4 linked regions of the Homo sapiens genome follow. The protein of the gene in region 4 interacts with the protein of the main gene of each other region in a pairwise test. Each region holds a gene or a part of one and is shown on either strand. Other genes may lie near its edges.

The links.
Region 1: the proteins of L3MBTL2 (region 4) and SSUH2 interact in binary tests that used the Homo sapiens proteins (3 or more experiments, as listed by UniProt).
Region 2: the proteins of L3MBTL2 (region 4) and RBAK interact in binary tests that used the Homo sapiens proteins (3 or more experiments, as listed by UniProt).
Region 3: the proteins of L3MBTL2 (region 4) and BIVM interact in binary tests that used the Homo sapiens proteins (3 or more experiments, as listed by UniProt).

The regions. Positions count from the first base shown.
Region 1 is NC_000003.12:8,634,799-8,638,298, forward strand, and holds part of SSUH2 (protein SSUH2 homolog), read right to left. Parts: intron 1,060-3,500; coding exon 961-1,059; intron 607-960; coding exon of another isoform or gene 584-606; coding exon 502-583; intron 1-501. UniProt on the Homo sapiens protein: Plays a role in odontogenesis.
Region 2 is NC_000007.14:5,055,860-5,059,359, reverse strand, and holds part of RBAK (RB-associated KRAB zinc finger protein), read right to left. Parts: intron 2,066-3,500; coding exon 1,939-2,065; intron 1,677-1,938; coding exon 1,581-1,676; intron 1-1,580. Other genes in the region: RBAK-RBAKDN readthrough, read right to left, coding at 1,581-1,676, 1,939-2,065. UniProt on the Homo sapiens protein: May repress E2F-dependent transcription. May promote AR-dependent transcription.
Region 3 is NC_000013.11:102,833,619-102,837,118, reverse strand, and holds part of BIVM (basic immunoglobulin-like variable motif-containing protein), read right to left. Parts: intron 2,654-3,500; coding exon 2,567-2,653; intron 1-2,566. Other genes in the region: BIVM-ERCC5 protein, read right to left, coding at 2,567-2,653.
Region 4 is NC_000022.11:41,225,812-41,229,311, forward strand, and holds part of L3MBTL2 (lethal(3)malignant brain tumor-like protein 2), read left to right. Parts: coding exon 1-130; intron 131-850; coding exon 851-933; intron 934-1,277; coding exon 1,278-1,512; intron 1,513-1,707; coding exon of another isoform or gene 1,708-1,763; intron 1,764-1,992; coding exon 1,993-2,058; intron 2,059-3,500. UniProt on the Homo sapiens protein: Putative Polycomb group (PcG) protein. PcG proteins maintain the transcriptionally repressive state of genes, probably via a modification of chromatin, rendering it heritably changed in its expressibility.

The sequences.
Region 1 (3,500 bases), on a different chromosome or scaffold from region 4:
CTGGAAACCCTGAGCTCGGCCCTGAGTCCTCTCAAAACAAGGTGGATATGGGCCTTTCCGCGGATCTAGACCAGGGTCAGCAAACTTCTGCAAAGGGCCACATAGTGATATTTGAGGTTTCGTAGCCCACATAGTCTCTGTCTCAATTACTCAGCTCTGGAGTAAAAGCTGCCAGAGACAATACACAGCCAATTGAGTGTAACTGTGTTCCAATAAAACTTTACTCCAGAAATGTGCAGTGGACTGGATTTGGCCCACAGACAGGAGTTTGCAACCCTGATCTAGACTATGGTTTTCAACGCTGGCTTTGTTGCCAAACCACCTGAAGAGCTTGGTAAAATGTAAATCCCTAAGCCCCATCCCTGGAGGATCTGGTGCAGTAGGTCTGGGGTGCAGACGGCCCCCTCCAGGGATCCTGATGCACTGCCAGGGCTGAGATCCTCAAGGGGCAATAGTGACATAGGAAATGCACACAGTCACAGAGTACAACCTGAAACTCACCTGTGTTCCAGGAACGAGGGCCAGGACCTTTGCTCCTGGGGCCTCCCTGGGGCCTCCAAAGGTGGGAAGAATATCTGTCCTCCTGGAGAAGGGAAGAGTCAGGGGCTGGACAGCCCAGGCCAAAGGAACAAATATTTGTGTGGTGGAAGAAGGAAAGACTGATTGAATGTGAGAAAGAACAGATGAAGAAACAGTGATGCATTTAATGCAAAAAGAATGGGGACTCCAAGACCAGCACCATCTAGGTCTTAGTGGGACCTGTCGCAGTCATGGACTGTTCATAGACAGAAGGCCTATGCCCCATTGCTTCCTCTTTCCACCTGCCCAAGATGAGGGGCTTCCCAGGGCCCCCCCAGGGAAAGGGGAGCTATCTCAGCACCACCTTTTTCCCGAGACATCCCACCAACCAGCGTGAGCCCTAGGTAGAAGCCCAAAGAACCAAGCCCTCTTGGAACTTACTGCCCCCTTGAAGAAGCCAGTCATAGCTGGGCAGTCTCTCCAGGAGCTCTGTGGGGGGCGCCAGAGGACTCTCGGCCTCAAAACTGAGGTCCACCACACCTGCAGAAAGACAAGCATTCCTAAGCCTTGGGTAGGGAGGCGAGGGCTGATGAGGGCTTCACAGGAAGTTGAGAAATTAGGGCGGGTGCATTATAAAAAGCCTCACGTTTAAGCCAGCCTCACTCTGGCATCCTTAGGACACAGAATACATCTGCAGGGCAGGTGGTAGTAGCAGCAGTAATAATAGTGATGAGAAACATCAAGAATGCCAGCTCCTATTTGCTGGGTACCTACTCCGTGAATATGCATTATTGCATTCATGAGTCTGTAATTCACTGTGGAATTACAGATGGCCACATATTCTTTGATGCTTTCCTTTCATGGAAACTGGGAAGATATGTGACTGCCTCAACCAAGAGAACACAGTGGAAGCATTAAAAGACTGCAGCTACTTCTGCCTCATGGAGCATTTGTTTTGGAACCCTGAGCTCTAAGTCAGGCTATTATGCTGGAGGGACCATGAGGAGACCCTAAGACTACATGGAAGGAGGTCCAGTTGAGTCCAGCCTTCCAGCTATCCCCGCCAAACCAGCAAAGCCATCCTGGACCCTCCAAGCCATATCAGCCACCTGCTGAATGCCACTGGATGACCCTAATCAACACCACGTGGAGCAGAAGAATCTCCTGCCTGAGCCCTACCCTAATTCCTGACCCATAAAATCATGAGACATAAAAACATTGTTGTTTTAAGGCACCGAGATGTGGGGTCATTTGTTATGCAGCTTCCTCCAGTGGACAATCTTTGCTCTGGGATTCCCAGCAGACCTGACCAAGACTTTCTTGGAGCCACATGGAGTCTGAGACTCCTCCTACTTAATCTCCTTCCTTCCCTCTCTCCCTTCACAAACGTCAGACCTGCATTGCAGTCTGAAGACATTCCCTCCTCTTTTCTCTTCACAGGTATCTTCAAGAAACCCCTTGCACATCTAATGCCATCTTGGTGTCTGCTTCATGGGTGACCCAAACTGGTACACTAACGCCTTCCCTCATTCCACCAATGAGGAAACTGAGGCTCAGAAAGGTTGTGACTTGCCCAAGATCATACAACCAGCAAGTGGTGGGTGGGGCTGGATTCAAACCTAGACTCGTCTGACTCCAAAGTTCGTGTTCTTTCCAAGTACAGACAGTCCCCAACTTAGGATGTTTGGACTTATTGATTTTTCTACTTTATGATGGTACAAAAGCCATATGCATTCATTATAAACCAAACATCAAATTTTGAATATGGGTCTTTTCCTAGGCTAGCAATAGAAAATATGACACACTCTCGTGACGCCAGGCAGCGGCAGTGAACCACAGCTCCCACTCCACCACTGCCTGGTGTATTAAACGCCTTCTTGACTTCTGATATTTTCAACTTATGATGGGTGTATTGGGACATAACCCCACTGTAGGTGGAGTAGTATCTGTACTTTTCATGAGGCAAAACTATGAAAAAATCATTCACTACGTATCTGTTTTCAAAACCTCATCCTAGCCTGTCGGGTGTGACATAGATACAGGTGGCCCTGAGATGCCAAGGAGGAAAGCATAATATAAGAACTGGCCCCTGAAGCACTGGAAGGTTCATGAAACACCTTCCCACACATGTTGCCTCATCCCACACTCCCACCTGGGGGTGTGGAAGGCAGCACTTCTGACCCCACTTGACATGAGGCACATGAGGCTCAGAGAGATTACTCCAGTAATCCTAGGTCACACAGCTGTGGAGTTAGAGCAGGACAGAGGTCCCAGAGGCCTCTGAAACAAGAGGTCTAGTTCCAGCCCACTGGGCCGCCCCTTTAAAACTGTTCCTACAACCCCTCACACTGGGAGACAAGAATCCCTTGGTTCTGTTTGTCTAGTGGCCAAGTCAGTCACAGGAGTTGACTTCAAATAGTGCCTGTGAAATGGTCATGGAAGGGGACACCGTCTGTCTCAGTCACTGAAGCAAACTCAGAGCAGACTTCCAGCTGAACTGCCCCATCTCCTAGAGCTTGTTTGTTTGTTTGTTTGTTTGTTTGTTTGTTTGGTGGGAGGAACCTATTTAAAGCCCGTAGTAGCTCTCTCCCTTCACAAAAGTAAAAATAATATACCCTGTCCCTTCAAGTTTAATAAAAACAAAAACCAGACAATAGAAGCTTCGTTCCAAGAAAACTTCATTTGTGAAAATAGGTGGTGGGTCCGATTTGGCCCTCGGAGTCACGTTTGGCCCATCCCTGACTTAGACACTCACCTGTGTGTCTACTTAGACATTCTCCTGGGAATGGGCTTGAGGGGATCAGAAAGGTAGAGGCTGAAACCTGAGCCTTTCTGGGGCGAAGGCCCATGCATGTCCACTGTAGTTTCTGTCAGCTCCATTATCAGAATTAAAGATCAAGGTCAGGGCTGGACTGTAGCCCTGAAATACATGGCCCAAGCAGTGGAGGAAGGAGGGGATGCCTTTAAGACGAATGAACACC
Region 2 (3,500 bases), on a different chromosome or scaffold from region 4:
GACAAGAGTGAGACTCTGTCTCAAAATGGAAGGAAGGAATGAAGGAAGGGAGAGAGGGAGGAGAGGAAGAAAGGGAGGGAAAATATGTATTATGTGGGCAAGTAAAATGCAGATGAAGGAAAAGGACAATGATCATTTGAATGGAAGATGGATCCACTGAAATCCAGGTATGGGAGAATACTGAACACGAATGTCGAAAGAAACAGAATGTGCTGACGCTCTGCCAGGCATTTCACAGAAGACAAAGAACACAAACCATGGAGACAAGACTAGCACAATCAAATACTGGGAGGTGAGGAAGGTAGACAGAATTCATGATTTTGGAATGTGCACAGTTTATCATCAGACATTCTGAGAAAGAAGGAAGTGAACTATCTCCCTGGTAACTGCTATGTTGTCAAGTAAAATATTCAACTAGACTCCAGGTTAAAAGTGTCAGACGTATCAATTTGGAGGCAAGCTGCAAAAATACACAGGAAAAAAGGTCTTAGAAGGTGAGATTAGATAAACTCTTTTAAGGGATACAAAGAAAACCAAAAAAGTGGAAAACAGGTCCTAGGGGGACAGTCCTGAAAAGGCAAGAAAAGGAACCGACATTCACTTATGAAATTCACACTTCCTGAATGTCTACTATGGACAGAGCATGATTCCAGTTATGGGGAAGGGGAAATGAACACACAGACGGGTCATGAGCAGTGGGGAAAGAGACGAAGGCTGAGGGAGTGCTATAGCGTCACATCAACTGAGCATGGACTTTGGGAAATAACAGACACCACAAGCTGTGACTCAGTTCACAAGCATAGGTGGAGGATGAGGTTTTGGTATCTGAATGCCTAAAGAAGTAAATAAAATCGAGGGCAGAAAATAAGTCCAAGGTATTTTTAAAGCAAGGAAGGAAAGAAAATGGAAGATAAAAGGAATGAACATAAAAGTCTCAAGTTGATTTTTATGTCAGACTTCTGAATGCCCCAAAACAAAACAATTCTGTAAGGCCGGGAGCCTCAGGACTGTAATCTCAGCACTTTGGGAGGCTGAGGTGGGCAGATCACTTGAGGCCAGGAGTTCAAGACCAGTGTGGTCAACATGGTGAAACCCTGTGTCTACTAAAAATATAAAAATTAGCCAGGCGTGGTGGCATGTGCCTGTAATCCCAGCTACTTGGGAGGCTGAGGAAGGAGAATCGCTTGAACCTGTGAGGTGGTGGTTGCAGTGAGCTGAGATCATACCACTGCACACCAGCTTGGGTGACAGAACAAGATTCTGTCTCCAAAACAAACAAACAAACAAACAAACAAACCCAAAACAATTCTGTAATGGCAAGGGAGTAAATAAGTTACCAATAATGCTGGAGAAAGAGGAAGTGAATGGGTCTCCAGTACCGGTTAGAATGAAAAAATCCCTACCAATGTAAATCAAATGTAAAATCAACAAAAGAGTTCATGTATGTGTGCGGGAAGGAAAGTGATATTTGGGGGTTGGGAGGTGTTACTGAGGGTACTGAATACATATAAACAACTCTTTAGTCTCTCCCAAAGGTCTGGGATGAGCATTTTTTAACCTTTGATACGCTACTAACTTACCTGGACTATGTTGACATGGAAATTCACCTCCCATTATCCACGGCTCCTCTCCCTGCTCCAACTTAATGATGACGTTTGGCTTGGTGGTATCATATCCTGTTAATGGGAAAAGAAGGAGGACTTGGGGAAGCTGCTTGGCTTCAGAATCTCTGAAGTACAAGATGTTGCCACCTCATAAGCTGCATAACAGAAGTGCTCCATTTTTTACCTTATCAAAGTTAGAACCTTTCAATGAATAATAATATAAACACTCCAGCTAGTGCCCACAAGGAATTAAATGGTGTCATCACTTATTTCTTCAAACTCAAGGATAAAACCCCATTCAACTGAGAGCATTCAGAAAGCAAGCTATTCTCACCCACAGAAACTAGATGGCTATAGTTCTCCAACATCACATCCCTGTAAGTTATCTTCTCATCAGGGTCCAGCTGCTGCCACTCCTCCTGGGTGAAATCCACAGCCACATCTTTGAATGACACTGGCCCCTGTAATGGCAACATGATCAGAATTGGGAGATACGGAAAAGGGATAGGGGGATAACGTTTTACAAAGCCCACCGGTAAAGTTAACCATAAACATTGTATACCTTATTTTATGTTACAGATTATGGAAGGGAAATCATATTGGAAACACATATCCTTTGGGGTTATAATACATAATATATAAAATATATAATATATATAAATATATATAATATATATAAAAAATATATATATATTGCCCCACAAAAATAAAAACCCAAAACACAACTGAGCTCCTATTTTGCAAGTGAACTAGCTGAGCTTTGGGGACATGAGATGAGTGAAACACCATGCCTGCTCCCAAAGTGAACAACCTAAAAAGGAGATAAACATGTAAACAAACACAAGCATTTTACTCCTTGTCACTTCTTTTAGTCTTCCTTGCTGCCAGGCCCTCCCCTTGCCCTGGACCTCTTCATGTTGGAGTGCCCACCACTCAGCTCCTGGTCCTCTTCCTCCTAACTCACTGCTCTGGGGCTCTCACCTAGTTTCAGCTCCTTGTTCTTTTGGCTCTTTTATTCTCATAGCCAGTGGCCTCTGGCTATCTGCATGGCTGAGTTTTATCTCAAACATCTCAATCTTGGAGCAATAAATATTCGTTAAATGAATGAATGCCCAAAGCTGTTATTAGAGTAATGCAGACAAGGTGCAGAATGATTTAACAAAAGAGGATCAAATTATTTTAATTTTATGCCATCAGATTAGGCTTCACAGACTCAGTTAACTTGAAGTCTTTAAAGATGAATTGTGCATTCTATGGGATGAAGGGGAAGAAGAATATGATGAGGTGTACAAAGTACCAATGGCAAACGGGAAGCAGCTTCAATTTTTAAGTGGTTGGGGCTGGGCATGGTGGCTCATGCCTATAATCCTAGCACTTTGGGAGGCCAAGATGGGAAGATCGTTTGAGCTCAGGAGTTCGAGACCAGCTTGGGCAACATAGTAAGACCTCATCTCTGCTAAAAATAAATTAAAAAAAAAAAATTGGCTGGGCATCATGGCACACGCCTGTAGTTCTAGCTACTTGGGAGGCTAAGGCAGGAGGATCACTTGAGCCTGGGAGGTCAAGGCTGCAGTGAGCTGTGAATGCAACACTGCACTCCAGCCTAGGCAACAGAGTGAGACCTTGTCTCAAAAAAAAAAAAAAAAAAAAAGAAAAATGCAAAACTCCTGGGCTCCAGCAATCCACCTGCCTTGGCCTCCCAAAGTGTTGGGATTACAGGCTTGAGCCAGCACGCCCTGCCCAAACTTGTAGTTTAGAAAAAGGAAGTGCCCAGTAAGCAGGCTGCATTATCCTATTATTTATAAAGAACATATCAACAAGGGGTTCAAATCCAGTGATACAGCTAGGACCATGTAGATCCCAAGAGATAGCAGAGGCAGGGCCGCTAGGCTGTGG
Region 3 (3,500 bases), on a different chromosome or scaffold from region 4:
TTTAGTAGAGATGGGGTTTCGCCATAGTGCCAAGGCTGGTCTCGAACTCCTGAGCTGAAGTGATCCTCCCACCTAAGCGCTGGGATTACAAGCATGAGCCACCGCGCCCAGCCAAAATTATGAATTCTATAGATTCTATCCTCATCAAAATCTTTACAAACTCTAATTAAAAGGACAAATTCTAAAATTTTTATGGAAAAGCCAAGGTCCTAGAAGAGCCAAAACAATCTTTAAGAAAAAGAAAAATTCAGAGAATTCGTGCTATCTAATTTCAGGATTTAGTATAAACAACAATTGAGAGTGTGGCATCGGTAAAAGGACAGACAGATTAGTAGGACAGGGTCCAGAAACAGCCCACACATACAGTTTTCAGCAGAGGCACCAAAGAAGTTAAATACGGAAAGGAAAATCTTTGTAAACAAATAGTGCTAGAATAACTAGATAAACACTGGGGGAAAAAATCAAAGTTGAGCTCTACCACATACCACACACAAAAGGTAATTAAGGCCAGGCATGGTGGCTCACATCTGTAATCCCGGCCCTTTGGGAGGCCAAGGAAGTAAGATCACTTGAGTCCAGGAGTTTGAAACCAGCCTGGACAACACAGCAAGACTCTGTCTCTACAAAAAAGTTTTAAAATTAGTAGGGCATGGGGGCACACATCTGTGGTCTCAGCTACTCAGGAGACTGAGATGGGAGGATCACTTGAACCCAGGAGGTCGAGGCTTTAGTGAGCCATGATCACACCGCTGTTCTCTGGCCTGGGTGATAGAGAGAGACCCTGTCTCAAAACAATAATAGAAAGGGATCAGAAATCTAAACATAAAATCTATAAAGCTTCTAGAAAAAAACAGGAAAGCATCTTTGAGGTCGTGGGGTAGGCAAAAATTTCTTATAGAGGCACAAAACATATAAAAGAAGAAAATTGATAAAATAAATTTAATTAAGATTAATTAGAATCAGAACTTCTGTTCATCAGAAGGTTTACAACCACTTTGGAGAATTTTCTCACAGTTTCTTAAATATACATCTATACTATGAATCAGCAATTCTAGTCCTAGGTGTCTTCCAGGAGAACAAAACATATGTCCTCTAAAAGACTTGTACAACAAAAGTGACTTCTCCATACAAAGGAAATGATTTGGCCATATAAAGGAATGAAGTTCTAATCCATGCTAAAACATGGATGACATTGAAAACACTGTATTAAGTGAAAGAAGCCAGGTACAAAATGCTACATACTGTATGACACCATTTATACGAAATGTCAAGAACAGGCAAATCCCAGCCAGGCGTGGTGGCTCACGCCTGTAATCCCAACACTTTGGGAGGCTGAGGAGGGTGGATCACTTGATATCAGTAGTTTGAGACCAGCCTGGCCAACATGGCGAAACCCCGTCTCTACGAAAAACACAAAAATTAGCTGGGCGTGATAGTGGGCGCCTGTAAGCCCAACTACTCAGGAGGCTACGGCAGGAGAATCTCTTGAACCTGGGAGATGAAGGTTCAGTGAGCTGACATCACACCACTGCACTCCCACCTAAGTGACAGAAAGAGACTCTGTCTTAAAAAAACCAAACAAACAAACAAACAAGAATAGGCAAATCCCTAGAGACAGAAGGTAGATCAGTGGTTGCCAGGGCTCAGGGAATACGGAGTGACTGCCAAGGGGTATGGGGTTTCTTTCTGGAGTGATGAAAATGTTCTGCAATTATATAGTGGTGATTGGTGCAGAACCCTGTAACTATAATAAAATCTATGGAATTGTACACTTTTTTCCCTTTTTTTGAGGCAGGATCTCGTTCTGTCACCCAGATGAGAGTGCAGCGATACGATCACAGCTTATTACAGCCTCAATCTCCTAGGCTCAAGCAATCCTCTTGCCTCATTTTTTAATTTTTTTGTAGAGACAGGGTCTCACTATGTTGCCCAGGTTGGCCTTGAACTCCTGGGCTCAAGCGATCCTCCCACCTCAGCCTCCCAAAGTGCTGGGATTACAGGCATGAGCCACCGCGCATGGTGGGTGCAGTGAACTTTATGGTATGTGAATTATATTTTAATAAAATTTTTATATAATTTGTTTCAAGGCTTGTACATGAATGTTCCCAAGAGCTTCATTGACAAGAGACCAAACCTCAAAGCAATCCAAATGCCCATCAACAGGAAAATGGAAAACAAATTGCAGCATGCTTATGCAACAGAATACTACTCAGCAATAAAAAAATAATAAACTCTTGATACACATGACACAATGGAGGAATCTCAAAAATGTTACTTAAGATATTGATGCAAAAATAATATTGTCTGATTCTCTTTACATGGAATTCAAGAAGAGGCAAAGCAAATCTGTAGTGACAGAAATCAGAAGAGGGGCTTTCTATGGAGATTGATAGGAGTAGAGAGTGAGAGTATTTTCCATGGCAATGAATGTGTACCATATCCTGTTTGGGTGGTGATTATACAGGTGCATTCATTTATCAAACTAATTATATACAACTAAGATCTGTGCATTTCACTGTATCTAAATGTTACCTCAATTAAAGAAAATAAAGGGAAGTTAACATACTTTTTACAGTGAATGGCAGGATGTTTTCTACTTGATTCTCCAATTAAGATCCAATATTCAACTTCCTGTGGTGAGAGAGGTCCCCTGCTAAATATAAAATACATTCACAGTACGTTTAATAGTTACTCCCTTGAGTATATTGCTTCAAATATATATTAATAAAAGGCATACTAGAGTGTATTCAAACCTGGCATTCATTCATCAAGAACAGACATTAGAGCTTAGGTGAGGGCAAATTTCTACAGGCCATTAAAGAGAACTCACAAATTAAAATTTCAGCCTTAATCCTCTATTCAAAATCTAGGGCTATAAAATGTTTTAATATACCACCTCTAAAATTCTAGGAGGAAAAAAAAATCCTGGAATGCTATCTGCATTTTTCCACTACTCTTCTCCTTTCACTATGAATTCAAGACATCTCAAAACGCATCCTAAAAATGAAACCCTAAAGCAATGAAGTCTTTAAACACACTGATGTCCTAAACCCATCCCTGGACATTCTAATTCAAATAGGTCTGGAGTAGAGCCTGGGGATTTATATAGTTTTTTAAGAAAATCTCACATGATTCTTAGGTACAGGCAGAAGTGAGGGACTCTCTTTTAAAGGGTACAAAGTTGGTTTAAAACCATGATTTATATTTGATAAATGTCAGAAATAAGGTGAAGCTGCAGGATGAAATCATAAAAGAAACATACAGTATACCTCACTTACAAGAAATTCCACCTCCAGAAAGATGAATAAAGCATTTCAGCATTGGGAGAGAACAAGAGAGTTCCCTCTTGCTCCTTATTCACAAAACACAACTTCCAGCTTCCTGGTTCTCCCAGGTCATTCCAACCTGTCTCAGAATCCCTCTCTTCCCCAAACCCGAGGGGCCTTTGAGTGGGACTCCAAAGCCACATGGCCTCCAGCCCCAAATAACCCATCCTGGCT
Region 4 (3,500 bases):
CTGATGATCTGTGTGGACGGGGGGCCCTCCACAGATGGCTTGGACTGGTTCTGCTACCATGCCTCTTCCCACGCCATCTTCCCGGCCACCTTCTGTCAGAAGAATGACATTGAGCTCACACCGCCAAAAGGTAAGACTAGAGAGGCCACCACCTGCTGTCCTTGCCATCAGAAGGGGCAGGGTGTCCAGGCGCGGTGGCTCCCGCCTGTAATCCTAGCACTTTGGGAGGCCGAGGCAGGTGGATGACCTGAGGTCAGGAGTTTGAGACCAGCCTGGCCAACATGACAAAACCTCGTCTCTACTAAAAATACAAAAATTAGCCAGGCATGGTGACAGGTGCCTATAATCCCAGCCACTCGGGAGTCTGAGGCAGGAGAATTGCTTGAACCCAGGAGGTGGAGGTTACAGTGAGCCGAGATCATGCCATTGCACTCCAGCCTGGGCGACAGAGCAAGACTCTGTCTTCAAAACAAAACAGAAGGGGCAGGGTGTGGCCACAAGCCCAGATTCCTGGTCAAGTCAGGCCCCAGAAGTGTAGCATTTCAGGGTGTATGGGAAAGGTGACAGAGCCCACCACCAGCCCTTAACTGCTGGGCTGACCCTACCCCATGGCCAGTGTATGGTTGATGAACAGAGCTCCCACTTATCCCATTGGTCAGTGAACAACCTATACAACAGGACTGTGGTGCTAGAGCAGGTACTACCCTGAGGGGATGAGAAGAAGGCTGCTGGGGAGACTCCATGCTGGGTCCTGACCAAGCTGCAGAGCTTCTTCAGCCATGTGTCCTTTCCTCCTGCCCACTTCCTGCTTCCCCCTCTCCCTCTGCATCTGAGCTTTCTGCTCCTCCAGGTTATGAGGCACAGACTTTCAACTGGGAGAACTACTTGGAGAAGACCAAGTCGAAAGCCGCTCCATCGAGACTCTTTAACATGGTGAGGAGACTGAAGTGGAGCAAGGGGCCTGCGGTGGCCTCAGGACAGGCCCTGCCTGCTGCTGTCAGTGGTGGCAGTTCCTACTCTTTCTCTCGAATCTCTACTGCTGACATCAGCCACTTTCAGGGGGAAGTCCCCAGCTATGGCCTGGGCACTCCAGTCCCTCTTCCATGGAGGGCGGTACTGGGAGAGGTGCAGTGGGTTATTGTCTAGAGGAAGCTGCCCCAGCAGCCATTCCAGTCCCCGCCCCTCCCTGCCAGTTCTTCAAGTGCCTCCGGGCCGGGGCAAGCCTGCTGGGGTAGGGAGCTGACTGGCTTGGCCACTGCCTCCTTTTTCTGCCCCAGGATTGCCCAAACCATGGCTTCAAGGTGGGCATGAAGCTGGAGGCCGTGGACCTGATGGAGCCCCGGCTCATCTGTGTGGCCACGGTGAAACGAGTGGTGCATCGGCTCCTCAGCATCCACTTTGACGGCTGGGACAGCGAGTACGACCAGTGGGTGGACTGCGAGTCCCCAGACATCTACCCCGTCGGCTGGTGTGAGCTCACCGGCTACCAGCTCCAGCCTCCTGTGGCCGCAGGTGTGGGCTCTCGTGGCCCTAAGAGGCTCTGACTTTCTTTCCTCTTCTTTTTTCCTTCTTCCCCCGCCCCTGTGCCCATCTCCGTTCTTTGGCATGAGGTGGAGATGTCTCATGGACCACTTTAAGTAGAGAGTGAGCCCCGTCACCCAGCCCCTGCTCCTGACTTCTCTGTCTCCCTTTCCCTCTGGCCTGCAGAGCTCCTTCCTTCATCTTGCCCACTCTGTCATATGTTCGTGCCCTTGTGCACCCAGGTAAACTACCCAGGTCCCTCTGAGCAGCCCTGGTAACAAGGGTGGGAAGAAGGGACAGCTGTTCTCCGGCCCCTCCTCCAGCCCCGCCCTCTCCTCATTGCCCAGGTTTGGCTTCCTGTCTTGGGGTGTCTCGTGTGGGAGGGTGGATGGGGTCTCGGGATGCGCCTGTGCCCTGTGTCCTCCCAGGGACCCTCTTCTCATCTCTTTCACCCTTGTCTTTCAACAACAGAACCGGCCACACCGCTGAAGGCCAAAGAGGCCACAAAGAAGAAAAAGAAACAGTTTGGGAAGAAAAGTAAGTGCTGCACCGGTGCAGCCAGGCTGGTGTGGGCCTGGGAGCAGTGGGCCTGCGTCCCTGGGAGCAGGCGGGGGTCAGCCCCCAGGCACTGGTTCCCAGGTGCTGTCCTACTGACGTAGCTCTCTTCGTGTTCCTGTCCTGTCTCTTTCCCCTTGCCCTTTGGCCTACGGGCCTTTCACCCTGTCTCTGGGGACCCAGACCATAAATAGGGAGTGTTCAGTCTCTGGCCATGGTCAGGGTGCTGAGGAAAAGAGGTAAGAGATTGAGGTTGGGGGATCCCATCCCTGATGCCCCATGTTCAGAAAAAAACAGCCTGGCCTGGGCAAGCCGCAGCTGCTAGGTTCTAAAGGAAAAGCCACAGGAAGAAATAGAAGCTGTCTCTCCAAGGCTGTCATTCTTACCTCGAGACCTCTTTGAGGGTGGGAGAGGGTGGGAGCAAAGGCAGGCAGCTGAGTGGCAGGACTCCACCTGGCTCTCAGGCCGTGGGTGTCGTTTCCCTTGGTGGGGCCTCACTCTACAGATTCTGAGCCCAGCTTGGGTTCCACTTGAGGGGCAGAGCGGGAGCGGGCAAAGCCATCCTTCAGAGCCGCAGGCCTATGACAGCGAGGTGGGCTCCACAGTGTGGTACCATGTGGGGAAGAGGATGTTCTGAAACAGAAACAAGGTCCCTTGGGCAGGGTTAAGATTGAGTGAGGCGGCCAGGCGCGGTGGCTCACACCTGTAATCCCATCACTTTGGGAGGCCGAGGTGGGCGGATCATGAGGTCAGAAGTTCCAAGACCAGCCTGACCAACATGGCGAAACCCCGTCTCTACTAAAAATACAAAAATTAGCCAGGTGTGGTGGCAGGCGCCTGTAATCCCAGCTACTTGGGAGGCTGAGGCAGGAGAATCACTTGAACCTGGGGGCCGGAGGTGGCAGTGAGCCCAGATCGCTCCACTTCACTCCAGCCTGGGCGGAAGAGGGAAACTCCATCGCACAAAAAAAAAAAAAAAATTGAGTGAGGGTGTGGCATTTATCCAGCAGGCAGAGGCTCTGTACCATTCAAACGGTAGGACCGGGAATGGTGCATGTTGTGGGAAGAAATCAACAATCAAAAACGGGGGCTGAGTGTGATGGTTCACACCTGTGATCCCAGCACTTTGAGAGGCTGAGGTGGGAGGATCTCTTGAGCCCAAGAGTTTGAGACCAGCCTGGGCAACATAGCGAGACCCCTAATTTAAAAAAAATTTTTAATTAGCTGGGTATGGTGGCACAGGCCTGTAGTCCCAGCTACTCAGGAGGCTAAGGTAGGAGGATCACCTGAGCCTGGGAGGTCAAGGCTGCAGTGAACTGTGATCACCCCACTGTACTCAAACCTGGGTGACAGAGTGAGACCCTCTTCAAAAAATCTTTTTATTTAAAAAAAGATTTTAAAAAGCAGTTACAACCACGACTGCC